Regions from separate parts of the Homo sapiens genome. Here region 2 is linked to region 1. Evidence: fine-mapped expression QTL. A gene starts in region 1. The other region holds a variant in brackets. All regions are shown on one strand. Distances are from middle to middle.

Region 1 (12,545 bases):
GAGTCACGTGGTAATTCTATATTTAACCTTTTGAAGAACCGTTTCATTTTTCTGCATGTGGCTTGCCAATTATCCCAGGACCATATGTTGAATAGGGTATCCTTTCCCCACTTTGTTTTGTTTGCTTTATCAAAGATCAGGTAGTCTGATGCCTCCAGGTTTGTTCTTTTTGCTCAAGATTGCTTTGGTTTTTCAGCATCTTTTGCGGTTCCATACAGATTTTAGGACTAATTTTTCTATTTCTGTGAGGAATGGCATTGTAATTTGATAGTGGTTGCATTTAATCTGTAGATTGCTTTGGGTAGCATTGAAATTTTGACAATATTAATTTTTTCAGTTCATAAATATAGGATGTTTTTCTGTTTATGTCACTTTCAATTTCTTTCATCCATGTGCTATAATTTTCAGTATACACATCTTTCACATCCTTCATAAAAATTACCCCCTAGTCTTTTACTTATATATTTGTTTTGATACTATTATAAATGGAATTACTTTATTATTTTTCAGGTAGCAGTTTGTTACTGGTGTATAGAAACAAGAATTATATTTTTATGTTAAATTTTGTAACTCTCAACTTTATTGAATGTGTTTATAAGCTTTAACTTTTTTTTTGGTGGAGTCCAAGATTTTCTCTATGTTAAGATTACACTGTCAGAAAACAGAGACAATCTTACCTCTTCCTTTCCTATTTGGATGCCTTTCATTTTTTTGCCTTGTATAATTACTCTGGCTAGTTGATTATATGTAATGTTTTCCGCATTTGTAACCTGACCTCAAATCCATCTGTTGTAATACACTGATTGTTACTTTTCAAACTTGAAAACCTGGACTTTTTCACTACTCTCCCTTTCTCTTGGTCTGCTTCTTATTAAAAAAAAAAAACCTATCAATGTAAACCAGGACAGATCATTATTTTTCTATAAAACAATTTCAAAGGCATTAAAAAATTTTTAATCTAACACTTTTAAACTTTGTATGTCAATGTTTAAACTGTGGTCTCGCAAAACAAATCCATTAACTTTAGTGGCAGAAATTACGCTAATCCCTACACTATCACTGGGTCTAGCCAAGAGTTGACCAAAGATGCTATTATTAGATATGCTTATTTATTACCTTGTTCTCACAGTTCTAGTGTAAGTCTTGAAAATCTAGAAAAAATTTGTAAAGATTATAGTTGCACAAACTCCCTCTCTCATGAGTCACAGTTAATCCAGAATATTACTTCTAAGTTATCATAAAGCCAACAAGTATGATATACTGTTTAAAAATAATCCTAATTTTATAAATATATTCTATAAATTAAACATGTAATCGATACTATTTATTGAATATCTCATAATTATATTTATTTACATAGAAACAAAGGAATCAAAAGCATCTCTTATATAACATTTAAATGACTAAAAATACTTGATAGCATTGCTACATAAATGCTATGTAAAAGACAACAGTAAAAATGTCATTCCCTACATTTGCTAAATATATTGAGACACATTATTTTTTAAATATATCACTAATGGTTGGTTCAAGTGGGCAAAAATGATTCTAAGTATTTAATTGTGGAAAAATGTAGTACAGGGGATAGTATTCATGTGATGGAAGGGTTTTAAATGGAGTCCAGGGATTAGCAGCAGCAGGACGTTTTAATGACCAACAGGTGCAGAGTCTAGGATACAAGACAGAACTGTAGATAAGTCTGAATCTTTTCAGCATATCTAGGAGACATGGCTAACTCCACCTGTTCCCAGGCCTTACCTAGAAATTTCACGGCTCCAAGCCAGGTAAACACAACAATTTTCCAAAGTCAAAGAATCAATTTATGACATTAAAGCACTTCTAAAATTTAACCTCTGACTTAAATTAGACAAAATGGATAGATTTTGAAGATATTTTTATTCTACCAATGATTTTAACACCGTCTTTATTTTCCAAAGATTAGTGAAGTCATGTGAAATAAAAGGCATTAGAGCCTCTGTTTTTCTGACAAAATATTTAAGAGCTTTCATTTTCTGTTAAGTCGAGTACTTAGAGCTCCTTTATATATACATCACATACACAACACTTCTGGACAGGACACGATCTAGCAGTTGTAAGTTTTTCTTTCACATTTTATGAACCCTAACACAACTTCCACAGACCATCTAGGACATGATTTAACTTTGTGACTTGTCCTGTATTTCCCTCTGTTGTGATTAGTCATTCTACTTTAGGACAAGAATTTGCCATACAAGATCCTCTCTCACATAACATTTCTTTCCTTCATAATATTTCTTACCATAAATACATCTTCATATCCACAACTTTCTTTAGATCTCTTCCCTCTACTAATTTCTGATGCCCACTCAAACCAAAAAGGTCAGATAATGCAAGGCAAAACAGGAGAGCCTTAGATTTTGAGAGGGACCTGTCTGCTTAAAGTTCTTGGGGTTCCATGAGGAAAACAGAGGTTTCTCCTAAAATGGGTTTGTGGCACCTTCTGTTTTTCCTTCAGCAGTCTCAGGCTATCAGAAATTACCTTAGATTCTCTCATGTGGGCATCAAGAGTGGCAACAAGAAAGATTAGGGAAATAATCCAGACAACTGAGCAAAAAAAGAACTTACTACTGTCCCTACTGTAAAGGTGGATAAACTGAGGCACCATGCGGTTTAAAAATTCATGTTCACATAGAGTCAGGCTCCACAGCTCACTCTCTTAACCATCCTGTAATTTTGCCGACTCTATGCCCAGTCACGGATGCACCTGTATGGTAGCTCATGGCCCCCTTAGAGCTTAGAATCTGGGTTTCATTCCTGCTCTACAGCTATATAATTTAACAATTTTCCTCTGAATTTGTTGGATTCTAATCCTACATATCTCAAATTTTATTATTACTGAATCTTAAAGGAGGCTGTGATGTCCTTAGTCTTTAGAAATATTAAACCTATAAATAAAGGGCTATATGAGGTTAAACGTATTCAAATTTCTATATGGTTTAAAACATTGAGGAAATGTATTGACAAACAAACTTAAGAAACTGCAACCAATCTACTCTGGACAAAAATTTAGATACTATCTCTTCAAAATAAGCTATCTAGTGGTATTTACACACATTCTTCCATATATCAACAGTATTTCACATGCTCATAACCTTAAAAATAACTGAAAGTGTCAGAATTATAGGCCTTACACATTTCTGTGGGCTTGAAAAATGATACAATATAGATTGTCTTTAAGGCAGCTAAGAAAATGCATAAACTTCTAGAGTAATCAGTTTAAAAAAAAAAAGAGTTCATACCAAAGGTAGTAATACTACGATTAAAAGAGAGCTCAACACTGCAGGTTCTTAAAGGCAAAAGTTAATAAAGCCTTGTTTTTGGTAGTGAATCTCTGCCTTGCAAAATTATACACATGATTCTCCCCCCTTCATTTGCCTCTTGCAAAAATGTGGTGATGAACCAGGTTTGCTCATGCAGATGATGATACTCTTCAAAATGGTTGCAGAGAAATAAAATGAAGGGAATATGGTTCACTTAATAATCTCATAAATTAGAACTTATTACCCCAGTGACTCTTACATAGCTCCAGACAAATATTTGAGAGAGATGAAATGGCCTTTTGCTACCAATATCTTATGTGATGCTTCACTTTTTGGTTCCTTGGATAACTACTTACAACTCATTAGCCCATTTATGCCAGAGGTTGCAATTTTTTGAATTTTTGCATGAGTGAAAAATCAGACCTTGTCAATGACCTTGAGCAGTATAAGTAACTCCCACATGCTTAGCGTTCCAATAATGGAACACTAGGCCTAAGTGGGTTAACACAATAATGAAATCATAGCTATTCAACTAATTATACGACTTATTTGTTTCCTCATCTCTAAAACATAGTAAGGGACCAGTTATTTTAAAAATACATCACAGTGACAAGTTTATTTTTCACTCAGTTTGGGCTTGTTGTTTAAGGTCATTGCTTGGCATAAAGAAAACAAAAAGAGGAGAAACAAGAATAGAAACATCAAATAGAAGCAGCAGCAGCAAAAGAAAATGAAGAGGAACAAGAAGAAGAAAATACAGACTGGAAGAAAGGAAAAAGAACAGGTGCGTGAATTAGAAGGCCTATTATACCTTTTATCCTTTCCTCGATTCATGAAATTTGAGTTAAGTCCAAGAGTATCACAACAAAAAACAAGCGAAAAGATACACAAAAAGTCACCCCCTGAATTTTGTTAAGAATTAGACAATGCTGCCACTCATGCCTGGCTCAGGCGCCAGCAGGAGGAGGGCACCCTCCAGAGATTGCAGGACAAGGAGGAAGACTCCTCCTTACCCTACATGCACCTCCACCACTGCCACTGAGGCCCGCATTATAGCACCTTAAGGTTCGTCCCCACCCCAGGACAGGATGGGCAAGTGAGCGCTCCTACTCCCCTTCCCAGCCCCCAGACTTGCCGCTGCTACCAACGCTAGCGCCGATGCCAGTACAACCGCTGTTGCCCTCAATGCACCAGCCCACCCTACAAGGCTCCTATCACTTGGCCCCCACGGGTGCCCTCCTACCACTCTGGTCAAGCTGCAGTCTCTGTTGCTGCCACCAACCTCATGAGGCAAGCTGCAGAGCCACGCCATCTACAGGCTCCAGCATACCACAGGTGACTCCTCCTCCTCCTCCAGCCTGGCTGGGAGCAGTTGCGCAGGCAAAGCCAGAGAAACCTAGAACAGGATGCAGGGAGTGGAAGTGTTAGAGCTTCACCTTGTCACGCTGGCCACTGGGCGGCAGGGACCATTTCATTAAAGGCACTCACACCCACCTTCCAAAGTCCAGCCTCTCTTTCTGGCAAAAGCTGGCCAGGAACTGGGGCCTGGGCTGGGTGTGAGTGCCTTCACTGAAACCGGCTCCTGGCCAAGTCCAGCTGGCCAGGAATTGCTGGGCCCATCGGCACTGCGCTCTTCGGGGAGCCCGCGTAGGAGAAACTCAGACCCAGCCAGCCCTCTCCACCCAAGTGCTGGTTCCCATTCCTCACGCCTCCACCCACAGTGCCCTGTCCCCCTCCCTCCCCCGTGGTGCCCTCTATTCCCTGCCCGGTAGTCCCAGATGGTCTCCACAACACAGAGCGTGCGTGAGGGCGCGGGCCAGGGAACCACAGTGGGTGTGAGAGCCCTGCGGTGCTCAAGATTGCATGAGCACGAAGAGATCACCCTCTAGAGTCTGGAGTCCGGGAAGAGAAGAACTCCATCCTTCCATGGAGGCCACCAGAAAGAGGAAGGAGGCCACAGCTGTCGCTGCCGCTGCTGCCTCTGCAGCCCACCAACCCCACTGGCAGTATAGCCCCCGATAGCACCCCTAACCTGCCCCCTGTAACCCTGGGATAGCACACCCAACAGCTGCAGGCAATGTAACCAATACCCCCCCAAACCATCCCAACTCCTCGGCCGCAGGCAGTGTTAGCACCCGATAGTGCCCACCTGACGCAGCCACGGGTATTGCTGCACTAGACAGCGCCCCAAACCCGCCCCACCCTCACCCCGCCATGGGCAGTGCAGCTCCTGATAGCGCACCCCCAGTCACAGGCAGTGCAGCACCGGACCACGCCCTTAAACCACCCCCCACTGCCAGCATTGTAGCCCCAGATAACTCCACCCAACCCGCCCCTGCCACGGACAGTGCAGCAGAAGACAACGCCCCTAAGCCATCCACCGCCACTGGCAGTACACGTTAGTGTACACAACCTGCCTCTCCCGACCACCCCTGCCACCTCGGGCAGTGTAGCCCCCCATTCCACCACCAGCAATGCAACCCCAGAGAGTGCCCCCAAACAGTCCAATGCCACAGGCAGTGTAGCCTTTGGCAGTGAGCCCCTATAGTACACCCAACCCTTACCCCCAGAAGAGGGCAGTGCAGCCCTGGATAACTCACCTACCCTACCACATTTCTACCACTGTGGCCGAGCTGCGGTCTCTGATTTCACCACCAACCGCAGCGAGGCGAGCCGCGGAGGCGCAAGCTCCGGCTCCAGCCTCCAGCACGCGGCGGTGCCTCTTCTTTCTGTCTTCCAGCCCGGCAGGAGAAGCTCTCGCTGCTAGCCTCCCTCCTACCGCTCCGTCACCACCACCACCAACAGGGAGGGAGTGCCCCAGGCTCCAGGCTCCAAGCTCCAGGCTCCAGGGGGCGAAAAGTGACGGAGCCTTCCAGTTCTTTAAGCCGGGTACGTAGTAGCTCCCCACACCCACACATAAGTGCCAGAAATGACGCGCCGCTGCCTCAGCATGCTTTATATACTGAGGTTAGGAGACCCTGGACTACATGTTCTGATTGGATGAGAGAAAAACCTCTAGGCCTACTCTGATTGGACTTTATTTTCATGCTGTGATTGGTTGTCTTAAGACTTGCTCTCATCCAATCAGAACATGCAGTCTAGGAACCGGCATGCGCATAACCTCAGGATATAAATAATGCTGAAGCAGAGTTACGTTTTTTTTGTTGTTGTTTTTTTTGTTTTTGTTTTTTTAGGTTTCCGTGTGTTTCTATTGAGCTGCTCAGTGCCCGGCTTAGAAGACCAGGAAAAGGAGTCACAGGTCGTATGCTGGAGGCTTGAGCCGCGGCACCGTGGCGCGGCTCGCCTCGCTGCGGTTGGTGGTGGCGGTGGACATTGCAGCGCGGCTGGAGGGGTAGGAAGAAGAAGATAGTTTTGGGATAGATAGAGGTGGGTAAAGAGTGTGGTTAGTGCCAAAGGGAAAAAAGGATAGCGAGGAGGAGAAGGCGTTGCAAAAAGACGATGGGGAAAAGATGGTGGGGAAAAAAGTTTTTGGGTAGATGGAGGTGGAAAAACAGGGTGCAGAGAGGGAGGGAAGGAAGGTTTTGCAGAAAGACGGTGGGTAGAAAGTTTATGGGTGGATGAAGGGGGAAAAGAAGGTGGCAATTGGGAAGAGGAAAGAGTGGTGAGGGGGGGAAAATGGGCGAGCAGTAGGGAGAGAAGGTTTTGTGAAAAGATGGTGGGGAGAGAAGTTTTTGGGTAGAGGAGCAAAAGAAGATAGCAAGTGGGAGAAGGAAAAAGAGGGTAACCAGCGGGAGGAAGACAAGGTTTTGCGAAAAAACAGTGGCAGAAAAGAAAGATGGTGGAGAAAAGATGGTAGGTAAAAAGTGTTTGGGTAGATGGAGGAGGGAAAGAGGGTGACAAGGAGGAGGAGAAAAGAGGGTGGCGAGAGGGAGCAGGGAAAGAAGTTTGGGGAAAAGACGGGAAAATAGTTTGGGGTAGATGGAAGGCAAAAAGGAGGGTGGCAAGCAGTATAGGGGAGAGAAGAGAACGAGTGGGAAGCAGGGGCAGACTTTGTGAAAAGATGGGGAAATTTTGGGGGGTAGATGGGGAAAAGAGGGAGGTGAGCAGGAGTGGGGAAAAGGCTTTGAGAAAAGATGGTGGGGAAATGTTTTTGGGTAGATGGAGAAGGGAAGGAGAGTGGCAAGGAGGAGCCGGGGGAAAGACGATGAGGAAAACAGTTTTTGGGTAGATAAAGGGGGAAAAGAGGGTGGTGAGCAGCAGTAGGGAAAAGGCTTTGGGAAAAGACGGGGGAAAATGTTTTTGCTTATATGAAGGAGCAAAAGGGCGTGATGACAGCGGGAGGGGGAAAAAGAGGGTGGCCAGGGAGAAGGGGGAAAATACGGTGGGAAAAAAAATACGGTGGGAGAAAGTGTTTGGGTAGATGGATGGGGAAAAGCGTGGTGAGCGGGAGAGTAGAGAAGGCTTTGCGAAATGACGGTAGGGAGAAAACGGTGAAAAAGTTTGGGGTAGATGGAGGAAGAGAAAGGGTGGTGAGAGGGAGAGGGCCAAATGCGGTCAGGAAAAGAAGGTGGGGAAATGGTGGGGGACAAAGGTTTTGGGTAGATTTTTAAAAATAAGATTATTTGTATTTTCACTTTTGAGTAGTTTGAATTCTTTAGATGTTTTGTGTATTAACCTCTTGCCTGATGCATAGTTTGCAAATACTTTCTTCCATTCTCTGGGTTCTGTCTTCATTATACTGATTGCTTCCTCTGCTTTGGAAAAGGCTTTAAGTTTAACGTAATTACATCTTTGCTTTTGTTGCTTGTGCTGTTGATGTCTATTTGAAAATTCCTTGTCCTAACCAATTTCATGAAGCATTTTATCCTATGTTTTCTTCTCTGGTAGTTTCATAGTTTCAGGTCCTGCATTTAAATCTTTATTTTGAGTAGATTTTTGTATATGGTAAGGTAATGGCCTAGATGTATTCTTGTACATGTGGGTGTTGGGTTTTCCTGGTACAGTTTATTGAAGAGATTGTCCTTCCCGAATGTGTGTTCTTGGGGCCTTTGTTAAAAATGAGTTGACCGTAAACGCGTGAATTTATTTCTGATTTCTCTATTCTGTTTCACTTGTCTATGTCTGTCTGTCTCATTCGTTCATCTCTCTGTCTCTCCCCTGCCCCTTTTATTGATAGTACCATACTGTTTTGATAGTACCATGCTTACCATAGATTTGTAGTATATTTTGAAATCAGGTAGTGTGATGCCTCCAGCTTTTCTTTTTATTCCAGATTCTTTTGTCTATCTGAGGTATTTTGAACTTCCATGTTAATTTTAAGATTCTTTTTCTATTTAAATGAAGAATGTCTTGTAGTTGAACACAGATTGCATTGATTCTGTAGATCGCATTGGGTGATATAGATATTTTAACATTCTTCTAGTGCATGGACATGGGATATCTTTCCATTTACTTGTGTCTGCTTTAATATCTTTCATCTATGTTTTATGAAGTTTTCATTTTGGGAAAAGAAGAAAATCTTTGTTCCTTTTTGAGAAGGTGAAAATTTTTTGGTTGTGTAATAAGATTTTGCTGTGTCTGCTAAAGTTGCCAAGCCATGCTAGACTGAGGAACGATGTTGCGTACAGAATGACACTCAAGTTGAAATGTGTCTGTGGGCTGTATGCCCCACCCTGCCCAAGCTAAAGTGGGAAAGGAGAGCCTTGCTTCCTCCAGGGCCTTGCCTGGTCCCACCCGACACTGCCTTCCCCTAACCTAATGAATTACTGTAATAGATTTTTCCGTGTTGAATCATTCTTGAATTTCTAGGTTAAGCCTGACTTTCTCCTGATGCACCTTTGCTTTAAATACTTCTGGATTTGATTTGATTTGTCAATCTTTCATGAATGTCTTTCTTAGCCTCCAGGTCCATAGATATTCAGAGCAATTCTTCCTAAAACAAGATGAGATTTCAGATGCATAAGCCAACCCCTCCCCAGTCTTAACATAATTTGGACAAGTGACGAGTCATTTAACCAGTGTACACCAGTTAGTCCCTAGAATAGATTAAAACATTTCCCCAAAAACTGAAAATGCAAGGTTAAGAGGTTTAGAAAAGTAGTTAATTTCTAAATATTGACTCTGTTTCTGGCTTTAACAATAAGTGACCCCATTTTCCATTCAAACTGTGATTGGTCATCCAAATTATAGACTCTTAAGATAGGCTCAATCAGAAATTTCAGAATTTAATTGCCATGAGATTTCTAACTCAAGTTTATCCAAAATAAGACACAAATACTCTTCTAAGATATTAAGTTGGAAATTTACATGTGTTTGAGGGAGGTAATCACTACAGGATAAGACACTAGGTTCAAATTTCAAGCCAATCAAGACAATTTTTATTTTTTATTTTTTTAGATGGAATCTCACTCTGTCACCCAAGCTGGAGTGCAATGGCGCGATCTCGGCTCACTGCAAGCTCTGCCTCCCGGGTTCACGCCATTCTCCTGCCTCAGCCTCCCGAGTAGCTGGGACTACAGGCGCCCGCCACCACGCCCGGCTAATTTTTGTATTTTTAGTAGAGATGGGGTTTCACCGTGTTAGCCAGGATGGTCTCGATCTCCTGACCCCGTGATCCGCTGGCCTCGGCCTCCCAAAGTGCTGGGATTACAGGCATGAGCCACCGCACCCAGCTGACAAATTCTTAACTAATCTATGTACTCTTTGCCCACAAGCATGCAGCCGCCAATTATGTGGGTTGACAGACGGAATTATAACCATATTTGCCACTGTTTCTGACAGAAGACAAGCCAAAGTCGCACTTTCCACATGTGGGTTTTTATTTCTAGTCCTTCACATTGACCATAGAATCGCCTGTGGCTTCCAAACCTGTCGTAAGCAGTTTGTTGTTGCTCTTCTGTATGTGATTAAGTGGATTTACCTTTTGTATACTCATAGCTACCATCTCTGTTTATCGTTCATTTAGGGTCCTTAGACAAGGTGCAAGACAAACAGAAGAGGGCATGTGGGGTCAAACTCGCTAGCTGCCTGCCTGATTTTTCTGCACACAGGTGAGATATTCCTGCACATCCTCTGGTGACCCCAGAATGAGGGGGACTCGCTGGTGAATTGCCTCGGGCTTCACGTCCAGTACAGGCTGGGTCCCCGTGGTCGCCAAGCCTCCTGCCTGCTCAATGATGTAGGCCACGGGATTGCATTCATACAGGAGCCGGAGCTGTGGAGGAACAGAGGCAGGTGAGTAAACTCTGCAAGTGGCCAAATGTCCCGAGCCATGCCCCTAAAGCTGGGGGAGGAGTTTGTACTGCGGTGCTTCCATCTGGCTAGCATGAGCGCACCATGCACCTTGCAAGAGTGGGCCCGAGCTTTAGAGCCTACAGCAGGCCAGATGCATCAGATGGCACTCATCCAGAAGCCTTGGGGGCCCCTCTGGCCAGGTGACTGAGCCATGTATCTACCCATCTTGTGATCCTTGTGCTTATGAGAGACCTGCCTCTTGACTTGGAAATATGAGATCTAGGCATCTATTTCTTGGTTCAACAAGAAGCAAACTGATGCTGCAGGCCTTGGTGGAAGCCTTTATATGTGAGACCTCAAGGCTGGTAAAGAGTCAAGCTTGGATGGGACAGTAAGGTCACCTTGACCATGCCGGCTTGTCTCTCTGGGGACAGCCACAGTGGCTGGGATTGTGTGGAGGAACTCCACATCTTAAGCTTTGACTTGTCTAACTAGTTTGCCGGTGTTTCAATGGTCTTGTCTTTTGACCCTTAGACTAAGTGAAATCCCATCGTTTGCACTCCCATAGCATCCTGTACTTCCCCTCTGGTACCACTCATCACACTGAGGCCTCTTTAATGCCTGGCTTCCTCTCTAGGCTGCTGTCCATCCTAGCTGGTCACTGTACTATCTGTATTCTCAGTAGTGCCGACACAGAGAAAGTGTTGGCTCCGGCCTGTAATCCCAGGATTTTGGGAGGCCGAGGCAAAAGGATCGCTTGAGTCCAGGCATTTGAGACCCCATTTGAGATAGTGAGACCCCATCTCTACAAAAAATTTAAAAATTAACCAGGTGTGGTAGCGCACACCTGTGATCCCAGCTATTCAGGAAGCTGAAGTGGGAGGATCAACTGAGCCCCGGAGTTCAAGGCTGCGGTGAGCTGTGATCATGCTACTGCCCTCCAGTCTAGGTGACAGAGCAAGAGCCTGTCTCAAAAACGAAGAAAGTGTCCAAGCAAGGCCACTGTTTCCTGCACGAGGGGTCCCAGCCGAGGGCAGAAACTGGGTTGAAATCAGCCTGTGCCCTGCTTGCCAGTCTCTGCACAAGATCCAGGGCTGCTGTTCAGAGGAAGGAAGGCCTTCTCTAACCCTCCTGCAGGCACATGAGAACTGGCAGGAGGCTGCCTGTGTCCTGTGAGTACGCAGTGAATTGAAATGAATGGGGTTGGATTGAATGGACTTTTTAGGTCTATTTCTGTGATGATGTCATGACGCCCCCAGCCTGACTCACAACACACACCCCCATCACCTTAGATTCAGGGTGTCGTTCTGGCCGAGGCCCTGCTGCTGTGCATGACTCAGTATCATCTTCTTCTTTCTCCCCATCAGTGCAACCTGTGTAACTTCCCAAAAGTTCATTCTCCATTATCACCTTACGAAATGGTTGACCCAGCTATGTGCAGCCTTTCCTTACCATTCTTTTCTTCCAGTCCGTTTTGGTGATATGTTTAAACTACTTTGAGAAAGAGTCATATATTATGGTAATTTTTTTCTATTTTTCTATTATATATTTATATGTTATTATATATTATATAATATATATTTACATATAATATGTTATATATTTATATAATGTTATTATATATTTTTTCTATTGTATATATTATATATATTAAGGAGAGGAACATGATGCCTTTGGTCTAGGCTGGAGATCCAGGCATTCGAGAGAAAGTAGGTGAAGACTCCATGGGGGTATTTACTGCCATTTTGGTCAGTGTAAGGTGCCCTCACCCTAGACCTCTGGCTCTTAAAGTAGTGGGTGTCCAGAAGGGTGTAAAAAAGTTGTGGTGCATGCGGGCTGTCTGGGGGCAGATAGTTCTGTCCCTCATTACCCACAGGAGGGACACTGGAGGCCATGCTGTCCAGGACAGTCTAGCCAAGGAGACTCTCACCTTGACAGCTTATAGCGCTCAGCATTTTTCTCCCCTTTTATGTGGGGGATTTGGGGTATCAGATAATAAAGTCTCAGATTGTAATCAATTATCCTGTTGAGTCAACTACTTTAATCAAAAAA
Region 2 (12,545 bases), 49 kb after region 1:
GGCTGGGCACGGTGGCTCACACCTGTAATCCCAGCACTTTGGGAGGCCGAAGCAGGCAGATCACGAGGTCAGGAGATCAAGACCATCCTGGCTAACACGCATCTCTACTAAAAACACAGAAAAAAATTAGCCGGGCATGGTGGCGGGCACCTGTAGTCCCAGCTACTCGGGAGGCTGAGGCAGGAGAATGGCGTGAACCCAGGAGGCAGAGCTCGCAGTGAGCTGAGATTGTGCCACTGCACTCCAGCCTGGGCGACAGAGCAAGACTCTGTCTCAAAACAAAAAAAAAGAAGGTTTCCCCTGTGATGGCGCAAAACAATGCTGAAAATGTGTATTCACACAAAAACCCACACACAGATGTTTATAGCAGTTCTAGTTAAACTAGAAACTGCAAACACCCAAAATCTCCTTAACAGTGAATGGGTAAACACACTGGGAGAGCCATACAACGGAATACTATTTTTTTTGAGGCGGAGTCTCGCTCTGTTGCCCAGGCTGGGGTGCAGTGGCATGACCTCGGCCTCCCGGGTTCACGCCATTCTCCTGCCTCAGCCTCCTGAGTAGCTGGGACAACAGGCACCTGCCACCACGCCCGGCTAATTTTGTTTTTGTATTTTTAGTAGAGACGGGGTTTCACCGTATTAGCCAGGATGGTCTCAATCTCCTGACCTCGTGATCCGCCCGCCTCGGCCTCCCAAAGTGCTGGGATTAAAGGCATGAGCCACTGCGCCCGGCCACAATGGAATACTATTAACAACACAAACACTAGTGTCACGTGTGGCACTTAGGCGAGTCTCAGAGGCATTGTGCTGAGTGACAGCAGTGGTCTCCAGCGAGTATCTACAGTCTCATTCCATTTGTAGGGGACTCTCCAGAATGCAAACCTGTGGGGACAGATAACTCTCATGGCTGCCAGGGGTAGGGGTGTGGGGAGGGGACAGGGCAATGGGGGTTTGCATGATAGAACAGTTCTAGACCCCAATTATAGTCATAATCCCAATTTCAAATTTTGCAAACTGAAATTCTGTACCCATTAAACAAGAACTCCCCATTCCCCCTCCCAACACCTAGTCCCTGGCACCCGCCATTCTGCTGTCTCTATGAATTTGGCTACACTGGGTCCCTCATAGACCATACAGTATCTGTCCTGCTGCGACTGGCTTATTTCACTCAGCACAATGTCCTCACCATCCCCGCATGCTGTGGCATGGGTCAGAGTTCCCTCCTCTCTGAGGCTCAACAGCATTCCCTGGTATGGACACGCCACAGTCTGTTCACCCATTCATCCTCTATGGCCGCTTGGGTTGCCTCCACCTCTGGGCTAGTGTGAGTAATGCTGCCATGAGCACAGCGTGCAAACATCTGTTCAAGGCCCTGCTTTTGATTCTCTCGGGGATGTGCCCAGAGGTGGACCTGCAGGATCATATGGTAATTGTCTGTCTAATTTCTGGAGGAACTGCTGCACCATTTTCCACAGCGGCTGCACCATTTCACACTCCCCAGCAGTGAGCAAGAGTCCCAGGGTCTCCACCTTATTGCCAGCACTTGTTATTTTCTGTTTGTTTGTTTTTACAGTAACCATCCCAATGGGTGTGAGGTGGTATCTCACTGTGGCTTAGAGTAGTTGCATCTTCCTAATGATTAGTGATGTTGAGCAGGTGCTTATTAGCCACTCCTGTAATTATTTTTATTATGCTTTTTGTTTGTTTTGTTTTTTGAGACAGAGTCTCGCTGTGTTGCCCAGACTGGAGTGCCGTGGCACGATCTCGGCTCACTGCAACCTCCATCTTCCAGGTTCAAGTGATTCTCCCATCTCAGCTCACGAGTAGCTGGGACTACAGGCACGCACCACCATGCCTGGCTACCTTTTGTATTTTTAGTAGAGATGGGGTTTCATGATATTGGGCAGGCTGGTCTCAAACTCCTGACCTCAGGTGATAAGCCTGTCTTGGCCTCCCAAAGTGCTGGGATTATAGGCGTGAGCCACTGCGCTCGGCTTATTATGTTTTATTAACATATCTGTTCACAACAGATTGGAAGTGAAACAAACAAGCCAGTGTTATGAGCAGATCTCTGGAGAGGCGCCGGTTGTCCGGCACTGTGGGTGTCAAGGATGAGCAGAAGCCTGGATAATTTGGGGATCAGGAGGGAGGGGGATTGGCCAGTGCCATGTATAAGTCAGCTCCCCCCGTAAAGGGATCCAAGGGAGGGCCTGCTATTTCTGCCACCCTCCAGCCCAGGCTGGCACCTGTGCAGCTGTCATGCCCCTTTCAGCTACATTTAAATGTTGGAAGTTCGAGTTACCTACATGATCTGAAATTGCAGCTGGTGACCTTTCAGCAAATGCCAAAGTTCTTTCAGGGCACACAACAGCGTGGACACACGGGGCATCTGGAAGGCCCAGAGGAAGGGGGGGGCAGCGTCCAGCTCACGCTTTTTTCAGCGCCACTGATGCATTGGTGATCACAGAGCTATTTATGGGCTTGCTGTGCTTGGTGAAAGGCCCTCACAGGCCTGGGCGGAAGTAGTAAGGACAAACAGAGTCTCTGAACAGTAAGGCAGTCTTAGGGCAGTTCATAGGGCGGGGCCCCCACCTGAAGTCTAGGATCTGGACTGTGACTCTACAGTACTAGCTGAGAGCATATTCTCTGTTAGCAAAACTCTGTTAGAATGCCTTCCATGCCCCGTCTCCAGTGATCTCAACAAACGCTCTTTCATGAAACCTCAGCATTTCTGCTTCCAGCACGGCAGACCCTTTAGGGTATCTGCTCAGCCCACGATCCCCATCTAAGAGAGAGGCGTGCCCTGCCCATAAAAAGAAAACCCAAGGCCACGTTTGTCTTATATGACCCGGGTCTATGGCTGCAGCTAACTGGACACAAGCTAAGACGTCAGGTTTTTTTCTCCGGGGAACTTGGTGTGAGACATGGAGACACAGTGGATTGGCTGACAATGCCAGGACGGACTAAGGGTGTGTCCTCGGGGTTAGGAAAGCAGTGGGTGCTAGGTTTCATGAGAGTCCCCTGAAGCTTTCCAACAAATTGCCTTTCTGCTTTAGCAGAATAAATGGGTTTCTGTTACCTACGATGAAAATGGCCTTGACTACAATAGATATTACAATTAACATTTTGCAAATGAAGAAAGGGAGACTCAGAGAGGTTAAAAATATTGCCAAGCTTGGTCTAGTTTAGTCAGGATAGCGTATGTTATCGTGCAGCAACAAATAAACCTGAAATCCCCACGGCTTAGCACAGCAAAGGTTTGTCTCTCCTTCTGGTCCCAGGCTGACATCGACATGGCGGTGGCTTAGGCCTCCAGGCTCCTGCCATGTCATGAACCTGTACAAAAATGCATGGCTTCAGAGGAGGACCCATCCTAATGTAGGTAATCTAGGCTCATCTCATCTTAATCCTTACTTTAATTAGATCTGCAAAGACCCTCATTCTTTTTTCTTTTTTTTTTTTTTTTTTTGAGACGAGTCTCGCTCTGTCGCCCAGGCTGCAGTGCAGTGGTGTGATCTCGGCTCACTGCAAGCTCTGCCTCCCGGGTTCATGCCATTCTCCTGCCTCAGCCTCCTGAGTAGCTGGGACTACAGGCGCCCGCCACCACGCCCAACTATTTTTTGTATTTTTAGTAGAGACGGGGTTTCACTGTGTTAGCCAGGATGGTCTTGATCTCCTGACCTTGTGATCCGCCCGCCCGCCTTGGCCTCCCAAAGTGCTGGGATTACAGGTGTGAGCCACTGCACCCTGATATATATATGGAAAAGGCTCCCAGACCATATTTCTCTCCCTTCATGCTTTGAGAACCAGATGCCAGCTGAGTTACAAGAAGTTTAAAACTCAAGAGGTGCTTTGTGCGTCAGGGGACTTTCCCAGAGGGCAGCCCCAGCTGGAGTGGAGAAATATTGGCTTTGGGTCTGTCTGGTCAGTGGGCAGAAGCAGATCCAATGCTCAAGATCAATTTCCTGCTGGGAAAATGTGAAATGAATGGGGAGTGTTTGGAGGGGAAGAAGCAGGATTCACATACACACATGTTTTCAGTTCCCAAGTGGAATCATATGGATAGATCCATTTTATATCTAGAGCTCAAGGAGGGCCACAGGTGTTACTTAGTGCCTGACAGAGCTTGCCACGATCTTGGACTCTGGTCCAGTAAGACCAGGGTTAGCGGAGGGAGAAACTGTTTCTATAGAGAGTTTAGTGAGAAGCCTGCTTGCTTGCAACAAATTGCATTTCCTTAAACCCTGTTCTTGTAGTGAATCCTTTTTCTTATGGTAACTAGACTGTAGGAACTATTAGCCTTTGTGAGTTAAGTGCCGTGCTTTTATAGAAAAATCACCACTGGGTGGCTGGGCGCAGTGGCTCACACCTGTAATCCCAGCACTTTGGGAGGCTGAGGCAGGCAGATCATGAGGTCAGGAGTTTGAGACCAGCCTGGCCAATATGGTGAAACCCCGTCTCTACTAAAAATACAAAAATTAGCTGGGTGTGGTGATGGGTGCCTGTTATCCCAGCTACTCGGGAGGCTGAGGCAGGAGAATCGCTTGAACCCAGGAGGCAGAGGTTGCAGTGAGCCGAGATTGCGCCACTGCACTCCAGCCTGGGAGACAGAGTAAGACTCCGCGTCAAAAAAAAAAAAAAAAAAAAAGAAAGAAAGAAAGAAAGAAAAAGAAAAATCACCACTGGGTAAACAGTAAACTTTCACTTGGGATTCAGATGGTTACATCCATGTTTGGGAGGCCAGAGGGTCACATGCAGGTACCACCACTAAGCCATTAGCTCCCCCATTTCTAGGAGGGCGTGAGTCGCCATGTTCAGGCTGCATGGTTCCTCAGCTGCAATCCTGAACAAGGCTGGGGAATGATGGGCCAGGCCTGAACGGGACGACATGAAGGAGAAGCCGTATGCTGGCTCACAGTGGCCAGGCTGCCTGCATTCAGGTCCCCACTCTGCCACTCATTGGCTGGAAGCCTTGAGCCAATTACTTCACCTCTCCTCGTCCATTTTGTCATCTATAAAATGGATTATTCAGAGTATCTGATTCATTGGGTTATTGTGAAGATTAAATGAGTTATCTAATGTTATATGCATCAGCAGTTATTATTGTCATCATCATTATTATTTGACACAAAGCAAGGGAGACTTTTTTTTAAGGAGGAATAAGTTTATTTCTCCTCCATCCACTCAAAATATATCTTAACACCAGTGGCATTATGGAGACAGCATTTGGTTAGGGAGTGCCAAGCATTCTACAGCATTTGATGGTGGAAATAGTCATGCTTTTTATTTCTGCTCTCTAGGAATGTAAGGTGCACAGCAGGTCAGGGTACTGCTGTGTGAGACAAAAGGTCCAGGTAGAGGCAATTCTCCGGATGCAGGCAGGGCAGGTGCTCACTGGGCAGAGTGCTTCTCATACACCTTCAGGAACTCGAGCACGTCGTCGGGGGA[T/C]CCCAAGATCACCGGCGCCCTCTGGTGAATGTCTGTGGGAATGACGTCTAACACGGCCTCCTTCCCAGTGGTGGCCATTCCCCCAGCCTTCTCCATGACGTAGGCCATGGGGTTGCATTCGTACAGCAGTCTCAGCTGGAAAACAAGACCGGGTAGCGGCCTCCTTGTATCAGAAGGTATTGCGTAAAAAAGAGACTTTTCTGCAGCAAAACATGCAGAGCTGGTGGGAGTTTCCAAGGGAACGAATACTGTATTTTTCCTTCCTGTGAGGCTGTAAAAGTTTCCTCCCACCCCAGGTTGCATCTGAGACAAAACAGTTAACCATTTGGTTAAATTCAACCATTCATCAAGCCAGTGCCAGCAATAGATTACCTGATGCAAATGTGAGACAGACCACCTGCATACTGGACAGAATGACATTTTGGCAGAAGCGATCATTGCCTTCTCTTTATACCATGGAAACTGGACTTAATGAGTGATTCTGTGTGTGTTGGATGGAGCTTCGCCTATTCTAAAAGCAATAAAAAAAATCCATGGTGGTGTCTGGCTACAGACATCTGGAAAGCAGACCGGCTCCTCCAAACAGTGTGATATTGTTTGCAACTCTGTGTGCATTCCTTTTACGATTCTCCGAAGGCTTTTGGGTTGGAATTCAGTGTATTATACGTCTTGGCATTCACCTTTAAATATTAACTTTTTTATTGTATGCCTTTTCATGCAGTCTGCCTACTGAGCGACAGCTTTCTGCAGGTGTTTCCTGAGTCTATTTCCACATAGGTGTCATGGCTAGTTTTGAAAAACCAAAAAAAAAAAGAAGGAGCCTCAATATTTGTGTTCAGGAACAATTTCGGGGGACTTTAGAGAAAAGTGCTGGAAAGCAGGCTAACCACACAGGTTGATATGCCCGAGGCAGCTACAGCTGGATGATGGTTTCAGTAAATAGAAATGCCTTCATTCTGGATGCCACATGCTGCAAACAGACCCAAATACATCCAAACACATAGGTTTTGTGTTTAAGGGAACTGTTGTTCCTGTTCTCCTCTTGCATTAAAAAAAAAAAAGGCAGCCACGCGTGGTGGCTCATGCCTGTAATCCCAGCACTTTGGGAGGCTGTGGCGGGTGGATCACTTGAGGTCAGAAGTTCAGGACCAGCCTGGTCAACAAGGTGAAACCCCGTCTCTACTAAAAATATAAAAATTAGTCGGGCGTGGTGGCGGGCACCTGTAATCCCAGCTACTCAGAATGCTGAGGCAGGAGAATCACTTGAACCCAGGAGGCAGAGGCTGCAGTGAGCTGAGATCGCGCCACTGCACTCCAGCCTGGGCGACGAGTAAGACTCTGCCTAAAAAGCCATCTGTCCACTGGGAAAACATAAGAAGGACACAATACTTGGGAAGGAAGCACACTGTCACCCTGGCAGAAGGAAAGCAGGGCAGCTCTGAGCGAGCGTGAGGGAGCACAGCCACCCTGCAGCCTGCTGGGAACACCATGGGCTTGGACTAGTGAGTCGGTGGTGACGGCTCACCTGAAAGCTCTAGGTTTCCCCAGAGATTCTTTCCTCCCCTAAAAGGTATCGTTTTCCAAGTAGTGGATGTTGACTCACTAGTTACCTCTGTTTTACACCTTTTGAAAGCAATCAAAGAAGACTTCTACTGAGGATACACATTTGATTCGCTGCCTTGGAAGTGAGGCTGGGTTGTTTCATTTCACTTTATGAATGGAATTCATTTTGCCCCAGCCAAGCCCTGTATCCACTGGAAGCCCTAAGGACTTTCAGTCCTCGTCCTGACCGTTCATTCTCTTTTGCCATAGCACTGGAAGGGCTCTCAAGAGACTATTTTTATCTTTAGTTGATATCGTCTGGCTTTACCTTTAATCCACAAAAGAATATGCTACAGACACACGTAGCAACCTAGCATGGAGCGTAATAGCTAGCAAAACCTTTCTTCTTCCTAAACTAAATCGCGTGGGCTGCAAGTGAAATCTGCTCCTCACTCCCTCTCCAGGGGACACCCTTACCTTTCCATTGGGGCTCTTCTTGTTAGCGGGGTACAGAAATATCCCTCCGTAGACCAGAGTGCGATGAACATCAGCCACCATGGAGCCCACATACCGGGCCCCATAAGGAGCTGAATTATCCTGCAAGTTAAGACCAGCAAGAATTAGGATTGCAGAAAATAAGAAAGAGAGTTTTCTTGGTGTCTCCTAAGTTTCTTTGATTCCACATCCATTCACCGAGCACCTACAAGGTATGTATTTGGGGCTGTGCTAAAAAATGTGATGAGAATCCTGTTCCCAATAAATAGAAAATGGAAAAATGGAGACAGCCTCTCATCATCTCACAATAGGTCAGATTGCCCACAGAAGCCCCAACGAGGGTATGGTTGATTCTGGTTATGGGGCTGAGGCAGGCATTACAGAAACTGTACCATTTAGTAACACCTTAAAGGCTGAGAAAGTTTGTTACCAAGCTAAGGAACCGGGCAGGGGTGGGAGGCAGTGTGTAATTTACAGGAGAGGAAACTGCACAAGTGTCTGCTTAGCAATGTGGAGAGGGATATGGTCCTGGAGGAGGAGCCTGTGGGACTCGGGTGTGCGTGTGCGGAGCTTGGGGGCAGGAGGGGAATCCAGGATAAGGTGAAAGGAGAGATGAGTAAGCTGGAGAGAAAGCCTGGGGCAGATCTGAGGCCTCCTTGAACGTCCTGCAAACATTTGAGCTTCATCTCTAGCAAACAGCAGCCATCGATGGCTTTTAAACAAAGAAAGGACAAAATCAGATATTCCATATAGAGCAAGCTCCACACAGCCATTTCTTCTCTTCATATTCACTAGCTTGTAACCTCTTTAGGGAGATGTCACGATGGGCACTCTCGGTCTCGAGATAACTGATAGATGCACCTCAGGCAGGCCTAGCAAGGGGCAGACACCACTTGACGGGCATTTGAGTGGGGGAACCACATTTCATCCCATCTGGGACCATGGACCCCAGAAGGGAAGATGTTTTACTGCCATGAATTCATTCATTTGTTTAACTTTATTATCCTAATTTTCTTCTGCCAAGAGAAAGTAGCAAAGGCTGACATGGAGACTGATTTTTGATGTCTCAGGGTGAGAATTCCAGTCTCCAGTACTGAGGTGAGAACTTCATCGTGGGCTCAGTGTAGACGGAAGCCCAATCCACTCCATCCCTGCTTCCTTTCACCTTTAGGGTAAGTCATCAACCAATAGATTTCCACACTGCTCAGGAGCCCCACATGAGGCCCAAGGCCCTCGATCCCAAGGATCCCTTTCATCTCCGGGGGATGCCCCTGCCTCCAGAACGGCCTCTGGTGCCAGATGCCCAGAACCTGCACCACCCTCCCCGGGCCCTCACTTACTGGGGGGAACTTCTTCCTCTGGATGTACTCAGTGACGGCAGGGTCAAAGTCCCTGGCGTAGCCCTCGTTAAGGCTGTAGATTTTACCTTTCTTTTTTATCTTCACATCCTTGTCCACCAAAATGAACTCCCCGATGGCCTTTTTAGACAAGGAAGGAAAGGTGGAGAGATGACGAGCGCACTGGGTCCCCCAGGCCTGGATGAGGCGAGCGATGGGCTGGGCTACGCTGGGCTGGGGTCGCGGCGCACGGGCACCACTCATCTTGGGGCCCCGAGACACCTGCCAGGCTCTCTGGGAACTGTGAATGGGGTGAGGGGAAGCAAGACAATGCTGCAGAAGCCATCAGGGTGATAACAGACACTTTCGACTTTGTTTGCATATGATTTCAGTCAAACAAGAAAGAAACCACACAAAAATAGGGAGAGCAGACTTGTGAAACAACTGCTAAGCCTGCAAGAGAGTAAGAACCGTGTGTCCAAAGCAATATAAGATGTGTATGCCTTTACCAAACAGAAAAAAGGGTTGGTTCAGGCGGGAGGTGGGCTCTCAGGAGAGACGGGCCACCGCAGGATCAGTCCCTGAGTTACACCCAAGTGCTCAGCGCTGTTCTCGGCTTTACATTTCTACCTTGATGGGAGTTCTCCTTTCTGGGCGTTCTTATAGAACAAAGTAGAACCCTGAGTTTTGAGTCTGGCGTACGTAACTTCCGATGGCCTTTGCTCGCTGGCGTGTGAAGTTTTTCTCAGACTGCCTCTTCCCACATAGCCCAGGGTTAAGCTTATGCCTTTAAGCTTTAGGCTCTTCAAAGGAGATTTGAATTTGGGGGAAAAGTGTTGCAGAAGTCCTATTGCTCCGGATTGAGGATTGTTATGGGTTCCTGTGTGTTTTTGGCAAGAGGGTGATCGAGGCTCTGCCCATTTAGGAGGGGCTTGACGTTGACACAAGAGTTGAAAAGAAAAAAGGCCCACCGACACCTCTCTACCTAGCCATTTATTCCACAGCAGAAATTGGTTCCTACCCATATGGAATACGTTGAAACCAGACAGACAGGGAGAAAGGGAGGGGAGAATTCACAGTGGCCATTGAAAGGTGTCACTGGAAGTGATTCTTCTTTCTTACTTTTATGCCTTTTTTAATATTTTCAAAATTTTTGACCACAAGTATACCGGAATATTCTTTTATCGTTGGTAGAAAAATAAATAAATAAATGTCTTTCAAAAAACTATATAGAAAAGAAAGCCATCTCACAACAGTTGCTGGGTGCAGAGCGCAGGGCCCAGCCAGACTGTCCATGGTGCAAAGGAGGAAAGTCTGTGTACAGAGACAAAACATAAAAGCTCCCAGAAAGTTGAAGCCGCTGGAAACCCGAGTACAGCTGTAGCAGTGTTTTCAGCAGAAACCGTCAGCCTGGCTTTGCAGCAAGCGCAAACAAAGAGGAAGCACTTAGCACCTCCCTGGCGGGAGGCTCAGCCCCGTCAGGCACCGCAGACAGAAGGGCTGGAATCAAATCCCAGCAGCCCTGCATTGCGCTTCCAAACATTCAGGACTGAGGAGGGCAAAAGACTATCAAACACACAGAAGCTTCCCTACAGGGATGCTCCCCTGCAATCTGGAAACAAGAAGGGATTGAATGTTTTCTCTGCTTCCACCAACTCAAAGGTAACAAGAGAAGGCACCAGAAGAATGGGAAGCAGTCAGGGCCCGGCAAATCACAGTCAGCAAACATCAGTGGTGCCCGAAATTCCATCCTGGGCTCAGGTGGAACTTTGCTCTGGTTCTGCCACTAACTCCCCCACCCCACCCCTACCCAGGTCACCACATTTGGCGACTTTAACTAGTGCTATTACCCTACCCTTGTTTATTTGTTAAGTGCCCATGCTTCCAAGGAGGTGAAAGTCCACTTCCCTGACAGCCTGGGACAAAGGCAGCCTGTGTTGAGTTAGCCTTCCTGCCACACACAGACCCGGCCTCACCTCCAGCAGCCTATCTCGCACAGAAGGTTCCTGTTCCTTGTCTGTTCCTGGGGTTCAGTTTGCCAGCAAAAAGCACTTTACACATAGTTCACTAATGTCATAGGAGGACATCTCTAAAAGTTAAAAAAGTTGGCCAGGCATGGTGGCTCATGCCTGTAATCCCAGCACTTTGGGAGGCTGAGGCGGGCAGATCACCTGAGGTTAGGAGTTCGCGACCAGCCTGACCAACATGGCGAAACCCCGTCTCTACTAAAAATACAAGTGTGGTGGCAGGCGCCTGTAGTCCCAGCTACTCAGGAGCTGAGGCAGGAGAATCGCTCGAACCCAGGAGGCAGAACTTGCAGTGAGCCGAGATCACGCCACTGCACTCCAGCCTGGGAGACAGGGCAAGACTACATCTCAGAAAAAAAAAAAAAAAAGAAAGAAAGACTGCACCAGTTAACTGAAGGTTTGTGTAAATGTACACGAATAAATGTGGGAGCTATTTTTGAAGAAGCAATGTCGTCCACTGCTTCAGTTGGCACACCCATTCGTCTCAGGAAAACAGCCTTTTGGTGACTAAAGTAGAAAAGCTAGAAATGGATGGATACAGTTTATGGCAAACAGAATATCTACAGCCCCATCAGGTCCATAAATGCATTTTAGTTGGCCAACATAGTGTTGCACACATGCAGAAACATTATGTTTTTTACAATCCAGTGTTTCTTGAACCATTAATAGAAGCCTTGGCAAGGCGGGCCCCCTCCTCCCAATTGTAATTGCTGGAACTCTTCAGTTCACCCCAGTTCCACCCTTGCCCCCCGGCCTTCCTTCCCCAGCACACTTCATCATCCCTATGGCCTGCCTGGACCTGGCATTTGGGTCATTTGAGTAACAGCTGCTCTGAGGAATTCACATTGGAACAAAGACCCCCTCTTGTGCCAGTCTGAGATGGCATTTCTCACCTCCATAGTCTGCTCGGGAGGCATACACTCTCTCTTGGTCTCCTGCCCCCTTTCCACCACACATCATCATCTCTGTCCCTCCATGGGCATCACCTCCCACCTCCACATACCCCTGCCAATCCCCCACACATATCATTCATTTGCTCACAGACACCAGCCAAGCCCCCAGCCTCCTGTGAGGTCTCTCACCGGGTCCAGCATGAAGCAGTTGACCCCACAGTCCATGGCAAGGACCAGCATGGTGGCACTGCCATACAGTGCGTAGCCGGCTGCCACCAGGTTCCGGCCTGGTTGCAGAGCATCCTTCTCAGAAGGCTCATCAGTTGATTTCTAGAGCAAGAAAGAAATCAAAGAATGTTTTTGTTTTGTTTTGTGATTCTTTTTTACAGTTCAACCATTAACAGGAGGCATTCTCAAGGTGCTCTTCTAATGAAATAGGGCATCTTCCCAGAGGGGCCTTCCCCTACACATCAGCAATATCCTGATTAGATTATCACGGCAGCCTTCCCACCAGAACCCAGATTTCCTGCATCTGGATTCCTCTTTCCAATTAGGGCCCTCCTCCAATTTTTCTAATGTGATATTCCCTCATCTCTCCACTATCAGTTCCAAAAAAGAGCATGCCTTCTTGCCAGTTCCCACTAATTTAATCTTATTACGGGCATCCATCTCTGTCACCTGCCTACTCCATCTTTATTTAAATAAATTAACACTGGGCTGCAGGGCAGCCAGTCTGCGGAGGAAATCAGTTTTGTGAGCTCTTGCCGCTGCAGCCCATACTCTGCTGAGCATGTGGTCTAT

The links.
Region 2: its variant is fine-mapped to the expression of PCAT7 in pancreas (GTEx, PIP 0.93).

The regions. Positions count from the first base shown.
Region 1 is chr9:94,548,660-94,561,204 of GRCh38, forward strand. PCAT7 (prostate cancer associated transcript 7) reads left to right here and starts at 6,424. Exons shown (of 3, transcript NR_121567.3): 1 at 6,424-6,686; 2 at 10,310-10,493. It overlaps FBP2 (fructose-bisphosphatase 2), which reads right to left. Exons shown (of 7, transcript NM_003837.4): 7 at 10,061-10,473. The coding sequence ends at 10,279. It overlaps LOC124902218 (a long non-coding RNA gene), which reads right to left and starts at 6,230. Exons shown (of 2, transcript XR_007061674.1): 1 at 5,900-6,230; 2 at 1,878-4,695. RefSeq lists enhancers at 1-8, 4,636-5,298, 5,963-6,625, 9,951-10,451.
Region 2 is chr9:94,597,988-94,610,532 of GRCh38, forward strand. It overlaps FBP1 (fructose-bisphosphatase 1), which reads right to left. Exons shown (of 7, transcript NM_000507.4): 4 at 11,934-12,074; 5 at 8,828-8,965; 6 at 7,470-7,589; 7 at 5,146-5,585. The coding sequence ends at 5,394. Among named protein-coding and RNA genes, the nearest start is that of FBP2, 10 kb to the left of the region's middle. RefSeq lists enhancers at 10,058-10,559, 11,988-12,487. The variant T/C (reference allele first, on the strand shown) is at 5,451.